Regions from separate parts of the Homo sapiens genome. Here region 1 is reported to be linked to region 2. Evidence: microRNA targets listed by miRTarBase, many of them from high-throughput screens and not tested one by one. Region 2 holds a microRNA gene; the other region holds the end of a gene's coding sequence.
What was found. The annotated mature microRNA hsa-miR-6809-3p reads CUUCUCUUCUCUCCUUCCCAG and lies in region 2 at 4,444-4,464, opposite strand. An mRNA with a match to its seed (bases 2 to 7 or 8) in the 3' UTR can be bound and repressed. Matches are read on the target gene's strand: a 7mer-m8 pairs with bases 2 to 8, a 7mer-A1 pairs with bases 2 to 7 and ends in A, and an 8mer does both.

Region 1: the mRNA of DR1 is a reported target of hsa-miR-6809-3p. Seed matches in the 3' UTR shown: 7mer-A1 at 3,269-3,275, 7mer-m8 at 5,029-5,035 and 8mer at 5,110-5,117.

Annotation. Positions count from the first base shown.
Region 1 is chr1:93,359,644-93,366,763 of GRCh38, forward strand. DR1 (down-regulator of transcription 1) reads left to right here. Exons shown (of 3, transcript NM_001938.3): 3 at 850-7,120. The coding sequence ends at 996. Among named protein-coding and RNA genes, the nearest start is that of DR1, 17 kb to the left of the region's middle.
Region 2 is chr2:217,896,070-217,903,189 of GRCh38, forward strand. It overlaps MIR6809 (microRNA 6809), which reads right to left and starts at 4,559; the gene lies at 4,444-4,559. It overlaps TNS1 (tensin 1), which reads right to left. Exons shown (of 33, transcript NM_001387777.1): 7 at 4,394-4,443; 8 at 1,729-1,900.

The DNA of each region.
Region 1 (7,120 bases), not on the chromosome of region 2:
ACCTTTTTAAGAACAGGTTCATTTTTTCCCTTCTTGGTGTGGTTTTTCTGCAAACAGATGAAATTAAATTGTGAAGGAGCCTTAGCTGTTTCATAGGTAATTAATAATGTATGCATCCTGGTTTCTTAAATCCTGTGGTTGTTTTTAATAGAGGATATATCAGATGAATGGATTTTAAGTAGTATCTTTTTACTAGTGTGTATACGGGAAGGATATGTATATTTGTATGTGTGTATATGCAAATGTGTGTACTTACAGAGAGGGAATGAGGGACACAGAGAGATAGGCATATAGTAGGTTAGGGAATTGTAATAGAAACTCAGAAAGAAATAATGGGGTAGCTACTGCATACATGTACAGTACTTCTTTCCTATGAGGTAGAGGTACTATACTAGAGAACTTTTAAACCATATAAATAAATTTTAGATTGAAAAATGTTTGTATCAAAGTTGTAATATGAGGGTACAGAAGAGTCAAGTGAAATGAAAGGAAAAGAAGAGGGAAAGAGCCAGAGGGAATATTGTGGGTTTTTCACAATATTGGTTCCACTTTTTCAACTTCTTCAGTTGAATCAAAGGTCATAAATTACGTGAAATAAAACAGGGCCATTTATAAGAGATCCAAGTTTGAGAAATTTCTTAGACCTGTGTAGTTAGAAAAAAGCAATCTCTAATTATATTTACCTATAGAGTTTATGTTCTCCAGATGTGTGACAATTACATAGTACTTGGACAGTATCCAAGTATGATAATAAACTGTCTGAAATTGGCCTAATCTACATTTAACCAAAGTGTATATATTGTGGGTTTGTAAAAAATTGTTATTTTTTTTTATGTTTTGGGTGTTTAGGCTAGACAGCAACAAGCAGAATTGGCCCAACAGGAATGGCTTCAAATGCAGCAAGCTGCCCAACAAGCCCAGCTTGCTGCTGCCTCAGCCAGTGCATCTAATCAGGCGGGATCTTCTCAGGATGAAGAAGATGATGATGATATCTGAAATTCACCAGCTGAGTTTCTATTTCTTCTATAAATGTTTTTCCCTGCACAACAAAAACAGTGAAAGAAATGCTTATCTGTAATTTTGTATGCATCTTGGTGGACTTGTCATTGGTATTCTAGGGATGTCTGCTATTAAGTTTCATCTATTGTGTGCTATACATGTAAAAACTGTCTCTTTGAACTATTGAAAATTTAAGGTTCAGTATAATATCAATTTTGAATTTTTAATGGTGTTTATGAAATTTTAGATAGCAGCGAGTCCTTCGTTTGATCAATAAACAGTGTTACAGATAACTTCAAGTTTATAAAAATACAGTGAAATTTCTACAAAGCTCTAAATCTGCATTTGCATTTCCTCTGCCCTTTTAACTAAACTAAAACTTGTGAATTTTAAATTATTAAGGGGGGGGTGCTGTGTGAATCAGTAGACATTGGATTGGGTTGGTGAAAGAGTTCAGTTCTGTAGTATCTGAATTTGTCTTTTAAAATGAGTACATATATAGGCAATAAATATATATGCTCAGATCAATATACTTGTTTAGAAAAACTTCAAGACATTCAAAAACTAGGAAGGAGTATGTTTAATAGTATTTGTATAAATTTGGTGGTTATGTTTTTTTATTTTGTTTCTGTTTTGTGTAGAGGTAAAAACTATAGTTTTATTACAGCATAATTCATTTTGAGCTCCACTATGACATTTCAAAGACTGCCCAGTTTGGAAGTCTGTCATGATTTTTACTCTTTCACTCCAATTCAGTAATTGTTGATAGTATTACTTACCTAGTCCATCCATACTCATATTATTCAAATATATAGGTGGTACTTTTGAAACAATTACATTGGTTCTCTTGGTTTAACTGAGGTTTATGAATATTCAAACCTTTGCTGGGGGAAAGAAATGAAAGTTAATGAGCATGCTTGCTATGAGAGAGGGATTTTTAATTTAACTTGTAGTTATAGTTTACTTATTGTTTTTAGAATTACTTTTACATTTTCCCAACTAGATGGCCTAGAGTCCAACATTACCTTTTGAGATGACATTATTGTCTCCATAATTGAGTGATAGCTTTAAAAAAAAGATTAGTTTTGCTTAAGAAGTTATGTTACAACTGATCAGCCCTATATGAATTAACTGATCAGCCCTATATGAAACATAAGTTGTGTTATAACTTATCAGCCGTATATGGAACATAAATAGTTTCTACCTGCTTGTTAGAGAAGCTTTAATTTGGTTCTAATAAATACAGTATGGTAGTGTTTATAGGAATCCAGGATGTTGAAGAAATGGCATAATGTCTATATTTTGGAAACAGAAAGGAAAAGTCACTTAAGATAGTATTAAGTAATTAAATTCCTATGTCAGTTGCCAAATCTTTTAAACTTATGTATTCACCAAGCCCAAAAATAGATTGTGGCTCCCAGGATTCCAATTTTAATTGGAGAGCTAAGTAAGTAAAGTTTTATAACTGTTAGGTTTCTTAATGATCATATTTTGCAGTTTTAGTAAAAGGGAAATATTGTTATACATTTATTAAATATACTTCCCCCATGAAGTGAAAAGGTTAATTTTGCTGAATGTTTTAAGTTGAAGTTACTTCATGGATGTCATACCCATGAAGTGCATTTGGATGAGATAGAAGAAATTGTTTTTTAAAAAGTTTAAGTACCAAAGGTAGTCTAGTCTAGAACGATAAGTTAATACGTGTTGGCTTTTCTAATTTGTACTGTAACATCCTTATACTTTCTATTTTAAGTATATCTGTTTCTTAAGTAAACAACTTAGATATTTTCCACACCTTTTTTTTTTTTTCTGATGCAGAGTTCAGGTTAATATTTTACTGCATCTGATAATGTATTATACGTTTGAAGCCTAGTGACTTTTCATTTTGACATTCTTGTGATTTCATATGCTGTATTCTTCAAGCAATAAAATTGTGATGTGTTTTATAAATGGTTTTTATATTTAATGTTCTATAGAGAGATTTCTATTATTACCATTTTTACTATTTTCAAGAATCTTAGGCCCAAAAGACATTTTGGTCATTTGGTATGTAGTACCTGCCTTTTGTTTTTGTTTACTGTTATTTCAAAAAATGTGGTTTTACTTGTATTTTTATAATTTACAGTCCTAAGATCGAGGCATAACAAAGCTTACTTATGCAATATTTTATTTTTAGGTTTTTTCTTTTTTTTTTTTTTTTTTTTTTTTTTTTAGCATTTAAGAGTCACTATTATGTTTTGCCAGTTAAAATTTTTTAAATCTTTTGAAGAGAGAAACAAAATCTTCAGCGTTCTTGAGAAATAAAATTATTGTTCAGTAAGTATTTTTCCATCCCCTTGAATATATGTTATATATTCTTTTTCGGCAGATTATCAGATTAGTAAGTGTTTAAAAGGCATCAGTTTTTAAAACTGCATATACCACACACACACAAAACAGTACACAAATAAAGGTTTTCACAAATTAAACAAACTCACATACTAGTCTTCAGATCAAAACACAGAGCATTATGTGTACCCCAGAAGCCCTCCTCTTTCCCCATCTTAACACTGTCTTCTTTCTTGCTGAAAGTTACTATCCTGACTTCTAAAATCATAGATTAGTTTTGCCTGTTTTTTATTTTATGTAAATGTAATCATACATAATACACTTTTTTTCATTCATCATTTTTGTGAATATTTTAGTTTCTTGTTGCCACTGTAACAAACTACCACAAACTTAGTGACTTAAAACAACACAGATTTATTCTTTTATAGTCCTGGAGATCAGAAGTCCAAAAATCAGTTTCATTAGGCCTAAATCAAAGTATCAGCAGGGTTGGCTCTTTATTGAGGTTGTGAGGGAGAATGTTTTCTTCCCTTTTTTGGCTTCCAGTGACGGCCTGTATTTATGGGCTTGTGACCCCTTCCTCTCTATGATCAAAGCTTGCTTTTGTCATTATATCATCTTCTCTTCTGTAGTCAGATCTTTCCCTGCCTCTAAGTTTAGGGCTCACCTGCATAAAGCAGGGATAATCCCCCTATCTCAAGATCCTTAATTTAATCACATCTGCAGAATCTCTTTTGCCATATAAGTGACATTCACAGGTTCCAGGGATTCATACGCTGGCTATCTTTGGAGGCCGTTATTCAACCTGCCAAAGTGAGATCCATTCTTATTGTTGCATGTATTTGTAGTTCATTCATTCTCATTGCTGTATAGTCTTCCGTTTGTTTATCCATTTTTCATTACATCCAAAAGTTATTCATTCTCCCATTAATAGTCTTTTGAGAATTTTTCAATTCTGAGCTATTATGAATAGTACTGTGTAGAACATTCTTATACATGTCTTTTGGTGAGTGTATACATTTCCATTGAGTATAAACCTAAGAATGGAATTGCCAGGTTGTAGGGTGTGTATATTTTCAGTTTTAGTATTTACTGTCAAACAGTTTTCCAAAGTGACTGTAAGAAGGCACCATTTTAATGTGTAGCATAAAAATGAATTACGCTAATGATCTTAGTGGGTTGAATTTCTCGAAACACCTAAATTGTACCAAATGAGTTATATTGCAGCAGGTATGTTGTTAATTTCATATAACAGGAAAATAAGAGCAAAAGTAATTGCCCTTATTAACTGACACATTAGTATTACATACTCATTAGGTTATTGCTCCTTAGAAAAAATGCAAATTTTAAGTAATCGTAAGTAGTATGTTGAATTAGTATGTTGTGGGAAAATCTGTGATTTAATTTTTTAATTGAATTTTAAATTTTGGGTTATAACCTCATTAAAATGCATGATATTTCCTTATATAGGTTTCTAAATTATGTCTGTCCAACTCATCTATATCCAAATGGCCATTAGGAAGAATTATCCAATTCAGATGGCATAGGCACTGCCTTCCAATTTCTTCATTTGTATTTTTTTGTTGCTGTTTTCTTTTTTGCCTCTGTCCCCAACAATTTGACCACAAGTCCTACCCCACCTCCTCTGTTTTTCACCATCCCCCAGGATATAAAGTGTCATGGTTAGGATCGGCCAGGGTGAAGAGAATGATAACATAAGTAGCCTCCTTTCACCTAAAGTATTACCACTGGTTCTTATCCTATTTCCTCAAAATAAATGAGAAGAGAAAGTAAGGAATAAGAGGAAGAAACTTTTTTTTTTTTTTTAAAGAAACAGGGTCTCACTATGTTTCCTTTTTCTTTTTTCTTTTCTTTTCTTTCTTTTTTTTTTTTTTTTTTTTGAGACAGAGTCTTGCTCTGTCACCCAGGCTGGAATGCAGTGGCGCGATCTCGGCTCACTGCAAGCTCCGCCTCCCGGGTTCACGCCATTCTCCTGCCTCAGCCTCCTGAGTAGCTGGGACTACAGGTGCCCGCTAGCACGCCCAGCTAATTTTTTTTGTTTTTTTTTAGTAGAGACAGGGTTTCACCGTGTTAGCCAGGATGGTCTCGATCTCCTGACCTCGTGATCCACCCGCCTTGGCCTCCCAAAGTGCTGGGATTACAGGCGTGAGCCACTGCGCCCGGCCTATGTTTCTTAATATAGATTGCAGTGGCTAGATTACAGTGACTATTCACAGGCATAATCATAATGCACCATAGCCTCAAACTCCTGGGCTCAAGCAATCCAAAAGGAGGAAACTTTTAACTTATGATCAGTTTCTACCATAAATCAAGCAACTTAGAAAAACCTTAGAACAGGGTTTCTCAAACCAAGCATTGTTAGTATTTGGGGTTGGTTAAGTCTTTGTTTGTGGGAGCCTATCCTGTGCATTGTAGGATTTCTAGCAGCATAATTGGCTTATGCCCACTTGATGTCATTAGCACCACTCCCCACCCTACTTCCAGTTGTGACAACCCAAAAATGTCTCCAGACATAGCCAACTGTCCCTGGGTGTTGCGAGTATAGGAGGCAAAATTGCACCCTGTTGAAAACCACCACCTTAGATCATCTAGGTTTTACTTTTAGGATAAGACACTTGAGGGAAAGGCTGTGAAACTGAACCTCTGTTAGAAGCAACACACAGTATCACTGCAAAAAGACTAAAAGAAATAGGTGATTTGGAAAGAGGAGGCCCAGGATTAAAATATGTTTCCAAGAAAGTCAAATCTTACAGGAGACTCTTGACTTCACATCTGCTGATCCCTTTACCCGATAGGACCTAGAGCAGCCATTATAAATCTCTGTACCTGCTTGCTGCTTTTCTACCTCATTGTTAGCCACACCCAGTTTGAAACAGATGAGGTATGCTATTTCATAACTAGTACATCTTTTAATAAGCATTTTTTATTGTGATTAAATATGCATATCGTAAAATTCACCACTTTAACCAGTTTTAAGTGTTCAATTCTGTGGCATTAAGTATATTCATACTATTGTGCAACCACCACCACCATCCGTCTACAGAACTCTTCATCTTCCCAAACTGAAATTATGTATTCATTAAACAATAACCACCCATTACCTCCTCTCTCCTCAGCCTCTGGTAACCAGCATTCAGTCTCTATGAATTGACTACTCTGGATATCTAAATGGATTCATTCTTATTTCATTTACCATAATGTCTTCAAAGTTCATTCATGTTGTAGCATGTATTAGAATTTCTTTCCTCTTAAAGGCCAAATATGCCGTAGTATGTAAATACCGTATTTTGTTTATCAGTTCATCCATTAATGGACACTGGGTTGCTTCTGCTTTTTGGCTATTGTGAATAATGCTTCTGTGAACGTGGGTATACAAATAACTGTTTGAGTCCTAATAGGCTTGTTATTTTTGAGTGCACAGATCTGTATATTCGCAATTGAAATAGGGAAAGTCTTTATATTCATATAAAGATAATTTATAATACAATAAGTCCTCAATGTTGTTGATAGGTTCTGGGAAACTGCGAGTTTAAGAAAAACAACATATAATGAAATCAATTTTACCATAGGTGAACTGATATAAATAAGAGTTAAGTCCCTATGGCATATATTTCTGGTTACAAAAACACTACCAAATTTCTAATAAAGACCCAAAACACTTCTAAAATTAAACATTGAGATTAATATGAGCTTTATATACATTTAAAAAGGATAAAAACAAGTAAGAATTGGCTGGACATGGTGGCTTACGCCTGTAATCTCAACACTGGGA
Region 2 (7,120 bases):
TGGCTTAATTCTCTCAACAACAATAAGAGGTAGACCTCAGACCCACTTTACGGACACAGAAGCTAGGGCTTAGTGAGGCTAAACAGCTAAGATCATGTAGTTAGTAAAGGCAGAGCCAGAATTTGAACCCAGGACTTTCTGAGGTTTAAAGCCAAGCTCTTAACAATGCCCCAATGCAGCTAACAGGTGGGTCTCTATAGTGGTTGAATAGTATCCTCAAAACGTCATGTCCACCCAGAACTTCAGAATACAACCTTATTTGGAAATAGTGCCTTTGCCAGTGTAAGTAGTTAAGGATCTCAATATGACATCAACCTGGATCTAGGGTGGACCCTAAGTCCAATAATTGATGTCCTTGTAGGAAGAGAAGACACACAGAGAGACACTGAAGAAGGCCACGTGGAGATGGAGGTAGAGATTGGAGTGATGCGCTACAAACCAAGGAATCCCACCGCAAGCTAGGAAAAGGCAAGAAGGGATTCTCTGCCATAGGATTCAGAGGGAGCATGGCCCCGTCAACACCTTGATTTCAGATTTCCAGCCTTCAGAACTGTGAGAGAATAAATTTCTGTTATTTTGAGCCACCAGATTTGAGGTAGAGTCATCACTTGGTGTCTATGGAGGATTTGGATCTAGGACCCCTCCACCCCGCCATGGATAGTGGATACCAAAATCCATGGGTGCTCAGGTCTCTTACATAAAATATGTACTATTTACATATAACTTGCATATAAAAAATGTACTATTTGCATATAACTTATGCATATACTTCCGTAGACTTTAAATCATCTCTAGGTTACTTGTAATACCTAATACAATATAAACGCTCTGCAAATAGTTGTTCTGCTGTATTGTTTTTATTTGTATTGTTTTTTATTGTTATTTACTGTTGGGTTTTTTCTGAATATTTTCAACTCATGATGGATTGAGTCCAAAGAGGTGAAACCCATGGATAGAAAGGGCCACCTCATTTGCTACAGTGGCCCTGGGAAACTAATGCAGCCTCCTACATCCCACCTCAAACACCCTGGGGACAGCCACCTGAGGTTGTACAGATCAGATCTGTGGGTCCAGTCCACAGGCACCTCCCTCTAAAATGGACCTGAGCCCTCCTCTGGGGCCAAGGACGGATCAGCCTTTCTGCGTTAGTGGAGACCACCGCCAGCACCTCTCTCCCGTGTGCCAAGGTGACTCCTCTGGGCCAGGCCGAGCCAGGTGCCAGCAACCCAGGGTCCCTTAAGACACATGTTGCCAAGACTCTGCCCTCAGACTTCTCAGAGGCACCGACCCTGTGCCAGCTCTGCCACTTCCTGACCCTGCAACCTTAGGCAAATAACCCCACCTCTCTGTGCTCTGGCAAGTGCCTGCTTGCTAGGGCTGCTGCAAAGGTTAAGTGCGTGGAAAGCAGTTGGAACAGGGCCTGGCTAGTAGCAAGCGCTCAATAACCTGAACTCTTATTGGTACTCTCTTCTCCTGGCCAGCACACACATGCACACACAGAGTTCCAGATGCTACATTCCAGCTGCAGCACACTCCTTAGAGGAGAGCTGGGCTGGAGAGTGATTGAAGACTCAGGCACGAGAGCTGCCTGAGGGGAAAGGCAGATAAACAAAGAGAAGAGGGCATGCTGGCACAGGGGCTGGTGGCAGGGATACCAGTCATGTAGAGGTGGTGAGCAGATGGAAGCATAGAGGGCACAGGACAGTGGGCACGAGGATCCATCCTCACCAGGTAGTTGCCTCCATGTTTGGACTTGAGCATCTGCGCCACCTCACGGAGGTTGCTCCGGAAGTTCTCCTCATTGGCTGTGCTGGGGAAGGAGACAGCGATGATCCTCTCTGTGACGTACACCAGGTCCAGCTCACAGCTGTCCTCCATGGTCCGGCTCACACTCATGTTTCTAGGGAGACAGCAGGCAGCGGAGGGTCCATATCAGAATCCAGCCCACAGGGAAGGCCCCAGATAGCTGCACCCCATACACACCCTGTGTGACCCCCATATGCAGCCCAGGGTGCTTGGCTGCTCTTCAACCCAAGGCCAAGGCCACAGGCTTCCTCTGGCAAGGCCAATGTGGCCGGCTTGGGAGTGCCGGCGAGAACAAGCTGGGTAGGGCTGGCAAGGACCTCAGGCCATTTCAGAACCAAACTGTGATGACACCAATTCTTGGTTCCCATCAGTCCTTTGGCCACTGCCTTCAACCTGTGACTCCAGAGCTCAGAGCCAGGGCCAGACTGGCCCAGGAACCCAGGAGCTCTGGCTCCCAACACTGGCTGCCTGGCCAGGCAGAAGTCTCCCGAAAGGCCCCAGACTGCTCTGGAAGAGGAAGGAGAGCCTGCGCTGGGCGCTCTCCAGCCCTGGAACGGAGACTTCCCACTGCCCGCCCCTAGCTCTCGAGCTGTGGAGTGGGCGGGAAACCTCTCAGGGGAGGGGGCATCTCAGGTGACACGTTCACCTGGGTTCCAGGTAAGCCAGACCACAGCACACATTCCAGCCCTCCCGGAGGCAGGCCAACTCCTGCCCTTTGTTCCTTGGCCTTCTCCCCACCTCTGGCAGCTCCCACTGCCTGCCAGAGCTGCTTCTTGGCAGCAGCCTCCCTGATTTCTAAGGGCCCAGAAAACAAGAGGGCACAGAGCCCTTGTTGCTGCAGTGGCGGGCAGCCGCCAGCACCATGCGTTTCCCGGAGAGGTGGGGAGGCCCCTGGGCTGGCCATCCTCTCCACTGGGCACTGGGTGAGGAAGGGAGGGGCTCGCATCTTTACATCTCTCCCAACTTTTCTTCCAGAGGAAGGGTCCAGGATGCCCACTTGGGAAGCCCACCTCTTGCTTCTAGAAGCACCTCCCCCATCCCTCCAGCTTTTTCCCCAATCATTGACCTCCTAGTGTCTCGCTTCCCCCTCTATCAAATGCAGGCAGCACTGACATTTCATTCTGCTAACCTTTCACCACAGCGGGATAAAGTGGAGAGTGGAGGGCAGCGAAAGGAATACCACTGGGGTATTTAAAAGTGATGAGGGCTCTCTGGCACTAGACAGAACAAGCCCCCAGATGCTGAGAAGCCATGAGGAATCCAGACCTCCACCAGGGTTCAATCCCAGTCCAGGTGGGGTGTGGAGATGGGGCAGCCAAGGATGAGGCATGGCAGGACCTCTCTGTTGGGATGACAGGGGCCTGAGTGGGACTGGGGACCAGCACCCAGAGGTAAGGAGCCCGGTTTGAGTTTGACTCTGAGTCCCAGCTACTTCTTGTCCCTATGGAAAGCTTCTCATTGCAGCTGTGGGGGAGAAGTTTCTATCTCAAGCCAACTGCCTACCCAAGGACAGTTCTTGTAGGTGGTGACCAGTCTGGGACAAGAAGCCACACGCACACATACCTGCAAGCAAGTGGGTGTGAGGGCGGGGAGCCTCAGCTAACTTGCAGCATCCCCTCCTCCCCATCCTCCAAAACCCCTCTCTGTTCTGGCTCCAAGGAAGAAACTAGAATGTCAGAAAAACTCGCAAGACAAGCTCCTGTGATTTCAGCCTCTCCCTCAGCACAGGAAGGGGAGCAAGAGGGGCCGTGCTGGTGAGGGCCATGAGTCAGACGTGGCCCATCTGGGGCACTGACCCGCCCCTGTCTACAGGCTGGATCCCAGGAAGGACGCAAATGCAGAACAGTGCCACCAGCCGGACAGCCTCAGCATCACACTCTGCATCCACCTGCCCAGGTCTAAGGGAAGGAGGGGATCCTCTAAGGAGCCACCTCCAGTCTGTGGACAGCTGGCAGCTGGGCCAGAAACTTCCAGGGGCTTCAACTCTACTGCAGGGCTGGCATCCCCAATCATCTCAGGAGCCTCAGTGGGTGAAGGTGAGGCAGAGAGGGCAAAACAAACTCTCTGGATCGCCAGGACACAAAGTCCCTTGTGCATCCCCTTCCCCCGGCCCCTGCCAGCCCAGCCAGATAGGGAACTTCCCTTTCATAAATGACTCTGCCCAGTCAGAATCCTGTCTGCAGAGAGGAAGAGATCCAGCACAGGCCTCAATGCTCATCAGCCCTAAACGCAAATCCAAGTGCTGCCTCTTGGTGGCTGTGTGACCTTTACAAGTCACCTCATCTCTCTGAAATGCTGCTCTACCAAAGGGAATAAAATACGTACCTTGCGGGGTTGTTGCAAGGACTAGATGAGCTCATGCAGGTAAATAAAGACTCAGCTCAAGGGCTGGCTAAGAGCTCAAAACACAACTGTTGCCAACGGCATCCGCACGCATCCTCTCCTGTGCCTTTCACGTTTGCCCACACTCCCCACCCGTGGCTTTATGGCTGCAGTCCGGGGGACCCAGAGGCAAGACTTAACAGGGACACCCACAGTGACCCCCCTGCTTGCACTCCCGCCCCCTGCCCCCACGGGCCAGGCATACCTGATGGGCTGGAGGTGGGGCTGGACACTCGGGGTGACCCTGGTGGAGCCCTGGGAAGGAGAGAAGAGAAGCAGCATTATGCAGGGGTGGGCAGGATGGCAGGAGGAGCACACCAGAGAGCTGTCCACGGGGGCAAACATGATCCTCTTCTTTCCTTGCCAACATTCTGGCCCTGCCACCCTAACCCCTGCAAAAACACAGCCTGCCCGAAGCCAAAGCCATCAACACTGATTCCACGTGAGTGTGCCTGCCTGTGTGCAAGCCCCAGAGGGACAAAAGGAAGAATCCCGAATGCTGAGGAGTGCACCCCACTGGGCTGGTGCCATCCACACTGAGGGCACACTCAACAGTTACTGAATCAATGGAAACACACTTCACTTTGATACACTCGCCAACACAAGAGAAACCCCAGGAGGAGAATACGACTGCCACCACAAAAGGAGCGATGAGAGTAATGGCGCCCCTCTGTCTTGCCACCATCACCCCACACTTCTCTGCTTGAAAGCTGTAACATCAAGTCATTCAATTGAGTTTAGAGACCAGAACAGGCAGGTGGAGCATGCAGGAACCAAGACGAGGCCTAAGACAGTGAGCCATGCTCCTGAGGGCCCACTCCCCACTGTCTGTGGCAGACAGTAACCATCTCACCCACTCCCCTTTTCACAGCTGTCGAGTGGTACAAACTTAAGCAAATGGGCCCAATCCATCCCAGGGCAGCAGGATGGCATGGCGGGTGTGAAAGCACAGGGTCAGAGGCCCACAGACCACAGAGTTTGGATTCCAGGATCCTGCTGGGCAGCCCTGCCAGTTACTTAACCCCTCTGAGCCTCTTGTAATGTCACATGTAAAATGGGACAACCTTCAGGCTGGCAGTGAGGATCCAAAGGAGTTATGCATATAAGGCACTTCGCATCATGCCTGGTATTTACCAGATGACAGCTGTTGTTTTTGTTGTTACTTTTGTATCAAGAAAAATGAAAAGGGTAGTTACAACCAAACATTCACCTCTATAGAAAACCAACACCCTGCATCGCCTCTACCCATCCTTCCAGTCACCTCACAGGATGCAGAATTGGGAAGGCCAGTTTCTAGATTCTCAGACCTCCTGAGCCCATTGACACCTTCCAAACACCCATGTGCCTCTCAGAAAATGGTCTTTTCCTACCGCCAAGTTGCAGCCTCTTCTTTAAAGAGACAGGACCACAATCTGCCAAGAAAGGAAGAAACTGAGGCACAGAATAACTTACCCTCAAGTCCCTGGGAAGTTGACGGCCAGGCAGGATTCACACTCCAACCTGGGGCTTGACCACGGGGTCTCCAAGAAGAGGAGCCCCTGCACCCCTCTCCTGGCTCCGCAGTGCCTACGAGGCAGGATAGGTGGGTTCCGAGGTCCAGCTCCCAGCTGAGCCCCAAGTTAGAGCAGCTCTGCTAAGAGGGGGACCCTCCATCCAGCTGTCCGGAAGAAGGCTCTGCCCAGAGTCCCAGCTGCCTCGGACCAATGAGCAGCTCCTCAGCAGTGAAGGAGGGAAGAGCCAAGTGGGGCTACTGGGGGGAAGTTTCTAAGTCTCACAGCTCTTCTGGCCCTGAGGACTCCAGTTTGCATGAGTCAAGCTTGGGGGTGGGGGGATTAGACAGGGGTGGAGCTGGGAGTCAACGAGTGACTGTGTTTGGTTTTCAAGACCCAAACCAGGCTGTTCCAAAACTGCCCCCTCAGAGGAACACAGAAACCCAACAGTTCACCCATCTCCATTTCACTGGTCCCTAATGAGGAGTCCCTGAATCTCCCCAGGCCCTAGGCCCTGCTCCAGGCCCCAGGGCCACCCTGCTATAAATAGCCCCTTGAGTTTCATCTGTTGCTGATCCGTAGCCACTTTTGGAGGAAGCCACCACAGCTGCTTTGAACAACTGGAAGCCACAACGGTAGCCAAGACGTGAGGTGTGGCCAGGAGCATGGGACCAGACCCAGGGAGCTGGAGAAAGACAATGGGCCATATTGATATGGGCTTGGCAGGGGGAACTGGGGAACCAAGGGGGGCCGGGAGCCTGCAAAGGTGCAGGGGTAAGCAGGACAAGCAGGACAGGAGACCTGGCTCCCCTTTCCCCACCGCCCTCTTCCAAACATTACAACACTCCACATTCCTCAGCCTCCCCACCCCAAAAAAAGCCAGTGAAGATAAATAAAAACTTGGCCCAAACAGAGTCTGGCCAGGCCGCCTCCAGAGGTGATAAGGCAAAGTCCAAGCCCGCTCTGCTCCACCGGGCGGGGAGGGGAGGGGAGGCATGGGGAGGAAGCCACCCTGGACAGTGACCCCAGTGCAGAGGATGGGGGACGAACAGCTGGGACTGTCATCCCCTGATGAATCACTGGGCTGCCCTCTCACTGACGGGGCTTCCTGTTTTCTGCAAAGTTTGGGGGCACGTGACCCTTGCTGGCGGACAGCAGACATGCACGGTGACACGTCTGAGTGTCGGTACACACAGACAGACAGAACTCAGAGAACAACAAATGGGCTGGGGCAGGGGCACGGCATGTCAGCAAACACACCCTACTGCTCCAGAAACACAGGTGACCTCACACGAGGCTAGAGATGGTGCCTTTGGAAGCATGCCTCATCACGTAGGCTTTTTACAAGCACAGTGGGAGTAACACAAGGCATCCGGTCATCCCTGGGCCTCCAATCTTCATGCTCATTCTCTCATTCAGCAAACATCCACCGAGTGCCACCA